Linked DNA regions of Homo sapiens: region 2 is linked to region 1. The links come from fine-mapping of genetic effects on gene expression. A gene starts in region 1. The other region holds a variant in brackets. All regions are shown on one strand. Distances are between the middles of the regions. Region 1 holds the start of MLPH (melanophilin). Region 2 overlaps MLPH (melanophilin).

The links. PIP is the estimated chance that this variant, and not a neighbour inherited with it, causes the effect. A credible set is the group of variants that fine-mapping cannot tell apart.
Region 2: its variant is the best candidate, but not a certain one, in a credible set for the expression of MLPH in skin (TwinsUK, PIP 0.70).

The regions. Positions count from the first base shown.
Region 1 is chr2:237,485,188-237,489,574 of GRCh38, reverse strand. MLPH (melanophilin) reads right to left here and starts at 2,324. Exons shown (of 16, transcript NM_024101.7): 1 at 2,138-2,324. It overlaps LOC105373957 (a long non-coding RNA gene), which reads left to right and starts at 2,427. Exons shown (of 2, transcript XR_001739962.2): 1 at 2,427-2,764; 2 at 2,854-3,875. RefSeq lists an enhancer at 2,489-3,457.
Region 2 is chr2:237,531,342-237,535,728 of GRCh38, reverse strand. MLPH (melanophilin) reads right to left here. Exons shown (of 16, transcript NM_024101.7): 9 at 1,082-1,165. Among named protein-coding and RNA genes, the nearest start is that of MIR6811, 23 kb to the right of the region's middle. The variant AAG/G (reference allele first, on the strand shown) is at 2,337.

The DNA.
Region 1 (4,387 bases):
GCCTTAATCCTTTGTGGCTGTTTCCCGAATGCTGCCGTCCAGGTCAGCCTGTATGGTTATTTCTATAGGTGGGGCCCATCAGTAGGCACTGACCCCCAGCTCTCATCAGTGGCTAAATGAGCACATTTCCACCTAGAAGGGCCACTCCCTTCCCTACAAGTGAACCAGGCACATCTGTGCTGTAGCCACAAGGGTCTGGAATGGCCCCAGCAGCAACAGCACTGGGAGGGTGTTCTGCCCCTCAGCCACCTGCCCACCAACTTGCCATCCCCTCTGCTCTCCCAGTTCTCTGGGGAGTTGGTGGTAAACCTCATTTATAAATGGACATGAGTTCTGCATTTACACCTAAAGCCTCAGTGCTAGTCTCTACCGCAAGGATGGGTCCCAGGTGAGGCTGTAGGAGGATGGTGCTGAGAGGTGGGAGCTGGGTTCCCATCCCAGTTCAGGCACAGCCAGCCCAGCCACCTGGGAAAGATGCCCCTCCTCTCAGGGTCTTAGTTTCCCCATCTGTACCATGGACAATGGCTGAGCTCCAAGACCTCTCTGGCCCTCTCCAGCCCTGGATGATGCCAGGATGTTGAAATTAAGAGGGGGAGTGATGGTGTGGGGGTAGTGGGGAGGAGTAGGGGCAAAGACTGTTCCTCCAGAGGTTGCTTCTGAAAAGAACAAGACAGTTGGCCCTAGAAGGCTGCCCCAACCACTGAGACTGGGGCTTATTTGAGCCGTTATTGCATTGTGGTTGAAAGGCACCAATTTCACTTTTCCCATTAGCCCACAGGGCTCTGGGACACTTCCACCACCTCCAGCCCCTCACTGGGCACACATTCAGCTGGTTTGTTTTAATTTTTTTCTGAGTCACTCATGTCGTACTCAGTAAGACCCACTGACTCCCCATGTGTGTGCCGGGCACCATCCCATGTTCTCTAAATGTGTCCTCAGTCAATCCTCTGAGGCACCTGCTACTGTTCTTAGAGCCTGAGTGAGGGCCAGGAGCACAGTGACCCATGCCTGGTACTTAGATACTAAGGAGCACGGTCCTGGGCAGGGAGGGGGCTGGGCCCAGGAAGGCTGAGGCCTTACTGAGGTCAGCTGAATCCCGCCAATGAGCAGGTGGAGGGATGTGTTTCCTAGGACAGATGCAGGCCAGCTGGAGGGATGGGTTTCCTAGGACAGATGCAGGCCAGCTGGAGGGATGGGTTTCCTAGGACAGATGCAGGACAGCTGAACCCGGGGTGTCAATGTCACTGCTCAGCAACGCGGTCTGCAAGTCCAGAAGCCTTTTCCTGAGACTTCACAGCCCCCAGCAATGCTGGCCTTTGCACCTATTGGGAGCCTTGCTCTCCCCCGACTGTCATTTCACTCCCTCAGAAAGAAATAAGTGAAGAAGATACCAGTCACACCATCTAAAAAAGGACCTGTCCCAAGTTCCGTGTGGAAGTGAGGTGGAGTTTCCAGTGCCAGTTAATGTCAGTGGGACGCGGTGTCTAAGCCCGGGGAAGGGATTTACAAGTGAGATTCCGTTCCTGTAGGGACTTGGGGCTAGTAGGGACGAAGCCCACAGGTGCTCACAGCTCACAGACCCTTCCCACATCTCTACTTCCCACACCTCCCTGGTGGGCCCAGGGAGTCTGTCTGCAAACAAAAGGTGATTCCAATAAAACAGACTTTTAGACGCCCAGAGGAAGCCAGGTGCCTCCTCCCAGGCCAAGATCATCTGGCCTCTTCCTCACCCCAAGACCAGCTCCTGGGCTGGGAGGAAACCTTTCCCCTGGGGCCAGCCTACTTGGCATCAGCAGCCTTGGCCCAGTCTGCATGGCAGACTCGCAATGGAGGCAATGGAGCTTCTGATTAAAACCAACCGTTTTGCCCAAAATGGGGATCCCCCGCCATCCCACTCCCACCCGTGCCTGCACCCAGAGCAGTCTGCTCAAAGAATCCAGGTGAAGCCTGGGGGACTAAGGCTGGGTGGCTGGGAACGCGCTGTCCTCACCAGCCTGGACCGAGGCCGGGAGGCTGGCGGCTGGGGGCGTTTTCACACCAGTGGGTCTGCACGCGACACCGCGCACCCCCCAAAGCCTAAGCCCCGAGTCCTGGGCGCCACCCTGGCCCCGCTGTTCCCTCTTCTCAGTGCACTCACCGGACCCTCTCCGGGGGACGCTCAGTCCCTGGTCCAGCACCTGGGAGAGAAAGGAGGCGACGAAGCAGGGCGTCAGGCCAGGGCGTCAGGTCAGGGCGCCGGGGCAAGGCTGGATAATGGGGGCAAGCAGGGCGCGGGGCGCAGAGCGGCTGGTTAGCGCCTGGCTCTCCGGGGCAGGCGGGCAACTGGCCACGTCCCGGCGCCTCCCGCCCGAACCACGTGGGCTGCGCCCCGCTCCGCCCAGCTCCGGGAGCGCGGACACCTCTGGATGCCCTGCCAGGCAGAGGGCGGAACGGAACGGACACCTGGGGCGCCCGCGCGGGAAGCGCCAGTGCGGGGGAGAGCCCCGGATACTCGACCCCCAAGCCAGTTTGGGGAGAAAGACGGCGGCGGGGAGGGGAAAGTTGAGCACACAGCTGCGATTCCCGTGAGTTGCGGCGACTTTGCATAGGTGACATCGCGCCGCGGTCCTGCCTTGGGCACGGTGGGACCCGCTTGCTGAGCGCGCTCTAGAGCGCGCGGCACATCGTCGAAATTTCTAACTCTGCAGGGAAAGCGCTATGTACTTCGGCTTTACAAATGGGGAAACTGAGGCTCAGAAACGCGCCCTACCAAAGCCACCGACCAGTAAGTGGCAACGCCAAATAATAAATAGGACTTTAAGCCCAGGGCTTTCTGCTGCAGAGAGCGTACCCTCACCCCTTCGATTCTGCCAGGCATCAGGACCAGGAGGGTCCCGCAGCCGCGGGCAGCCCTGCTGCGGGGAGGAGACCGAGGCCTTGCCCGCCAAGAAAAAGTCAAGATCCGCGGGCAAATGGGGCAGATGTGGAAGCCAGGACGCGCGGCGCGGTGGTTCCAGGACCGAGGACGCGCTGCGGGGAACGCCTGGGAGCTCCGCGCCGCTGCGCTCTTCTCCTGGACTCTAGGGCCGGCCTTTGGGTGCTCAGCGGGGCCCGCAAGCTCAGAGGGTCCCAAGGCGAGCCGCCGTCTCCAGTCCGCCCGGCCTGCCTGTCCTTCCGAATTCCAATGGACATTAGGGAATTGCCCTCCTCCCTCATCCTCCAAGACTGGGCGCTTCAGAATTTTCTCTCCCTCCCCCTCCCTCTCCCTTGTCACTTAAAAACTCACATTCTGTTCTCCAGGAACCGCTTTTGCAATTCAGTTTTCCTATCTGCAAAATGATAGGAATAAAGCCATTAGGTGAATGAATAGATACTAGTATCTCCATTTAACAGAAGAGGAATCAAAACCTTATAGGATTGTTGTGATATCACATTAGATTATTTGTAAACAGCTTTCAAAAGGCTGCAAAAGAACAAAAAAGAATGTTGTTGCCTGCTGAGCCCAGGGGAACACTGTAGGTGAATCAGGGTATTTCAGGCCCCTGGGCTGCTTTGAGACAGGTGCTCTTACCAAACACCATCAATTGTTGAGTGTGAACCCTGGAATAGAGTGAAGCTTACACTGAAGCCAGTATTTCCACATCCCATATGATCTGGTGCTTATGTTTTTCATTTCCTTACCTCCTTGCCATATACTTTACTGTTACTTGTTAAGATTAATAAATCCCTTAAGAGTTGATGTAGGGACTTAAGTTCCTTAAGGGCAGAAGTTTTTAAAAATGTTTTTAATACTTTAGTGCTTATTTATTTGAAGTAGTGGTTTTAAAAAATATACAACTGACACACGCTGATATATAAGGTATATAGTAAAGAATATAAGGAGTATAAAATGAAAAGCCAAATTCTCTCTTATTCCATTACTAACCTCCATGACCAGAAAGCAATCATTATTAATGGTGTCTTCTATATTCTTTCTGAATGGTGTGTGTGTGTGTGAGGTTAAGCATGTGGGCTCAAACCAACTGCAAGAGTCGGAATTCCAACTAGGAGTGTGGCCCACAAGCTGTGTCATCTTGGACCTGTTACTGAATCTTCTACTGACTTTTTTCTCTCTTCTCCATGATGAGAATAGTAATGGGAGTTACACATAAGGGTGTTGTGAATCAATATCCCTGCAGCTTGGGTGAGACACCATGTGGTGAGTGCTTGGTAAATATTAATTACTATTCCTGTTGATCTACTTCATCCTTTTTTGGTTGCAGAGTATCCAATGTGTGAGTTACCATAATTACTTACCAGTCTTCTATTGATGGACAGTTAATTTTTGATTTTTTGCTATTTAAATGATTCTGCCATAAATATCATCCTAGATAATTCTTATTGACACCTATCATACATAGGATGACAC
Region 2 (4,387 bases), 46 kb before region 1:
CTTTGGAGCACTGACCCCATTCCTATGGAGTCTGTGTGGCCCAGAAGGCTGTCCTCAAACTTTGTGCTCAAAGAAACTCAATACTTAATCATATTTGCTGAATCTCCTTATCTCCGTGCCCAGGTGCTAGATGTGTGGCTGTGACTCAGCTGGAATGGAGGACTGGGTCCCTACTCCCTCTGCACCCCGGCTGTCTGTCTGCCTGTCTCTCAGACACAAAAGCACACACACACACATGCACACACACTCCTGCAGCAGGCCATGGTTTGTTTTATTTACTCCCCATCAGGTTGTCTCGGTGTGCTGTTGTGGTTTGACTGTGTCCCCTAAAGTTCATGTGTTGGGAACTCGATCCCCAGTGCAATAGTGTTGAGAGGTGGGACCTTCAAGAGGTGATTAGGTCGTGAGGGCTCTGCCTTCATGAATGGATTAATATCATTATTGAAGGAATGAATTTGTTATTCATTCCAGGGTGGTTGTTATAAAAGCAAGTTCAGTTCCATCTTGCTTTCTGTCTCTCCTGCCCTCTGTCACCATGTGCCATGTGGTGACACAGCAAGAAGGCCCTCACCAGATGCCACCCCTTGGTCCTAGACTTCCCAGTCTCCAGAACCATGAGCCAAATACATTTCTGCTCATTATAAGTTACCCAGTCTGTGGTATTTTGCTATAGCAGCATATAGCAGACTAAGCTGTGCTGATGATACATTCACAAACATGGTGCGGAAGGAGATTCCACCCTGCTTTGGTGCCTAGACTTCAGAGGCTGTAGGGCCAAGCAAGTTTCCTCCCATCTCCAGTTATGTCCCCTGGGAAGGCTGTTACACGTATGTGCCCTCCAAGCATTCTCTCATTCAAGCTCTGGGCATGAGAGGTGGTGGCAGGCCTGGATGGGACAGAAGACTTCACTCAGGCTATGTGGTGGGAACTGCCTGGCTCTCTGAGAACTACACACAGAACTTAACCTTACAAACAGCAAAATCTCAAGAAACTCTTCTCCCAAAAGCCCATGTCACACTTCAGCCTCCTTTAACTAAGGAGCTGTGGGGGCCCTTTCTCTTTGCCCAGCCCCCAGTGTTACCTTGGCCAAGGGAGGCACAACTGTGTTCTCCAGGTAGGTCAGCAGGCATTCCACAGCTGAAATATGCTTATTCAGCTCAAAGATCTGCAGCAGAAGGAGAGAAACAGTGGGCAGAGGACCCAGTGCACTCCAACCAGCAAGACACTGGCACCCACCACCTCTGAAGCACCAAATTCCCAAGAAGCGGAAGGAGAGCTAAGGCCACCACCCATGACATGGCCTGGGAAGGTTAATTGTGAAACCCATTTCTAACACCAAGAGTTCTGGAACACCAAGCAAAATCTTGGAGCGGAACCAAGAGAGGGGAGAGTGGGGAGGGTGAAAGTGGAGGAGAGGAGCCGAGTCCAGCAGGACAAGGAGCTGAATCTGGAAGGTTGTGATGGTGTCATTACTGTGGACAGCCACTGTCACTGCCGGTACCGAGCAGCACAGGAAGACATCAGTTAATTACGCCACAGTGATCAAACTCACAGTCATTAGCTAGCAAGAGCCTGGGGTCACTAGTGGGCTAGGAGGCAAGGCACTTCAGGTGACAACCTAAAGGGACCAGAAGTACAACTTCCTCATCCCTTGAGTCACCAGACTCTTGAGTCACCCAAAGTCTATTAGCTCCCAGACTGAGACATGATAAATCAATTTTCTAGTTTTCTTCCTCACCCAGCAGATGCATCTTTCCTGCCATTATCTCATTTACGGCTCACCTGGCTTTAAAAGAGGGAAATGGTGCTGTGGAGTGTTAAGATGCTTTTGTATTGTTTGGTCGGTAATTAGTTGAATCATCACAGCACCAAGGGCTTTGAGTGGGCAAATCTGCCCGAAGAACATGACTGGCTGAGAAATGTCAACACCAGGATTTCAGTTAGACCTCGGCCCACGCCTTGAGCGGCCACTAGTAACTGAGTCACCCTCTGGTCCCGTTGAGCATCTGCAGAAGCAGAGATCAATACCCTGGGGAGACAGCACTCAGCACACATCCTCTGTCTCCCGGAAGCAGTGGGCTTGGGGACTCAGGCAGATCACCTGAGGTCAGGAGTTCGAGACCAGCCTGGCCAACATGGCGAACGCCATCTCTACTAAAATACAAAAATTAGCCAGGGGTGGTGGCTCATGCCTGTAATCCCAGCTACTCGGGAGGCTGAGGCAGGAGAATCGCTTGAATCTGGGAGGTGGAGTTTGCAGTGAGCTGACATCATGCCATTGCACTCCAGCTTGGGTGTCAAGAGCAAGACTCTGACAAAAAAAAAAAAAAAAAAAA[AAG/G]AAAAGAAAATAGAGAAGAGACTTCCCACTGCCCCCTTGTCTTTCAGAGCTTCTTTCTCTGCTTTTTCCAAATACATATAAATCTTTAAAATGGCTAAAAAGCCTCTCTGCAGTCTCAAAACTCCACCTGGGAACTGTGTTTTTGAAATGGAAACATCCTTGAAGATAACTCTAGCTCCCACTCCCCAGGAGAGGGTGAAGAGTCTAACGTGGGTGGGCGCCTTGCTCCAGTTTGCAAAACTAGCTCCCATCTTAAAGATGTGTGAGAAGGTTGCTTTTCTTAGGGTTAAAGCCAACACAAGTGGTCTCCCGGTTATGATGCTAGAGTGAGGATGTACACTGTGATCAAAGGCACCATCAGCTCCTCTCATTGGTAAGGACTGGTGATGGTTTGTGCTGAGAACTGTGTGGAATGGGCCGGGCCTGCCGGGCTGCAGAAGGGCTGAGAGGCCTTCCTGTCTTTGCAATCTCTCAGCGGATTGCCTGGGGCACGTGCCATATTCTGGTTTGATGCTTGTTCAAGAATAAATCTGTCTTCTTCCTCTGCTACCCTTATGGAGAGATTTTCTGGGTAATGAAAAGATTTCGGGTTTTTCTAAAAATTATATTTCTCCAACAGTAACAACTGCTCTGGTGGGAGTAGCATCACTCAGACGTGGGCATCTGACCCTGTGTGGGCACCAGTCATCAGGATTATCACATTACTTAGATATGTACGGACAGAATACTAGGTAGGAACCCCTTGAGCTTTCAACTCGCGACAATACCAAAGTTTAGAGTTTACAAATGCAATACAGACACTAGCTAGGGATTAAAGCAAACCAACAAAATATGTCACTGGTGACACTTTTATGGGAAACCGTCAGTGTCTGTAGCCCGAGCACACACGAATGGCCCCAGGGCCGGCCCTTGGGAGTGAGGGGGCGGAGGGTGCGTGCCAGGGCCGTTTCCTCTCCCGTCTCCCATCTCAGCCCCTTAGAAACTTCCTTCCTACCACATGCTTGTGCCATCTTGGGCCTTGTCTGGGCTTGAACAATATCTACAGGAAGTCTTTACCCCTCGTCGGGAAAGCTGTGACTGTCAATACAAATGCAAAGGCAGGCAATGCACAGCTGCCTGACCCCTCAGATGAGCTGTGATAAAATACGATTCCTGAGAAAGCTCAGGCCCTGAGGGCATGGCTGGGAGTCTTGGGGTTGATGGGCAGATTGAGAGTGCTTCCTCCTGGGGTCCCACCACAGCCACTTCACAAAGGCCCCTCTAAGAGTCTGCCTGGGTTTTCTCTGAAGTACAGGATCGCTGCTGCATTTGGAGCTTCTTTCTGCTGCTTAATTTCCTCCATATAAAGATGCATGGGAAACAATCTAGGTGAAATATTAGTTGAGGTTGTCACATTGAATAATTCAAACAAAGCTGTTGGAACTTTAAATTCTGAGTCTTGAGAGGACATGTTTCACAGCTGAAACTTCTACTTTTTTTTTCCCTGTGAATAATTAAGACCAAACAGGATTGGAGATAAGGGCCCCCCAGGTCACTGTTCCTTTGCAAGGTTGTGATCCTGCTACAATTTCTACATAGGTGAAAACTTCACTAGTCCACTTTGGGCCCCATTTGTTTGAAGTCTGTGTTTCTGGGTGGCCACTGTCAAGCTTTTGTTCTGATAAACTTGATATACTAATACTTATTTATATTTTCTGAATCTCATTATTTAGGGTTGGCAAAGTAAATACAAGTTAATAGGAATAAATAAAGAGAAACAATTCCACAGGCAGGATATACAAACATGAACTAGAGAATAATTCCAAGCAGGTATAAAGGATAATTGGTTTCAGTGGGGCTGGAAACCACGCTATGTATTTTACTAAAGGCTACTAAAGTTGCTAAACTACAGGTTTACTGAAAATAGACAACTTGATTCTCCTCTTCATCCTGTTGTCTTCAGGCTAGGAGACTAGGAGATGCTCAGCCAGCCAAGGATGTCCCATGGGTCTCTACCTGGCCACCCTGAGAGGTCTCTATGCTGGCCTCACCCAAGAGGTCTCTATCCTG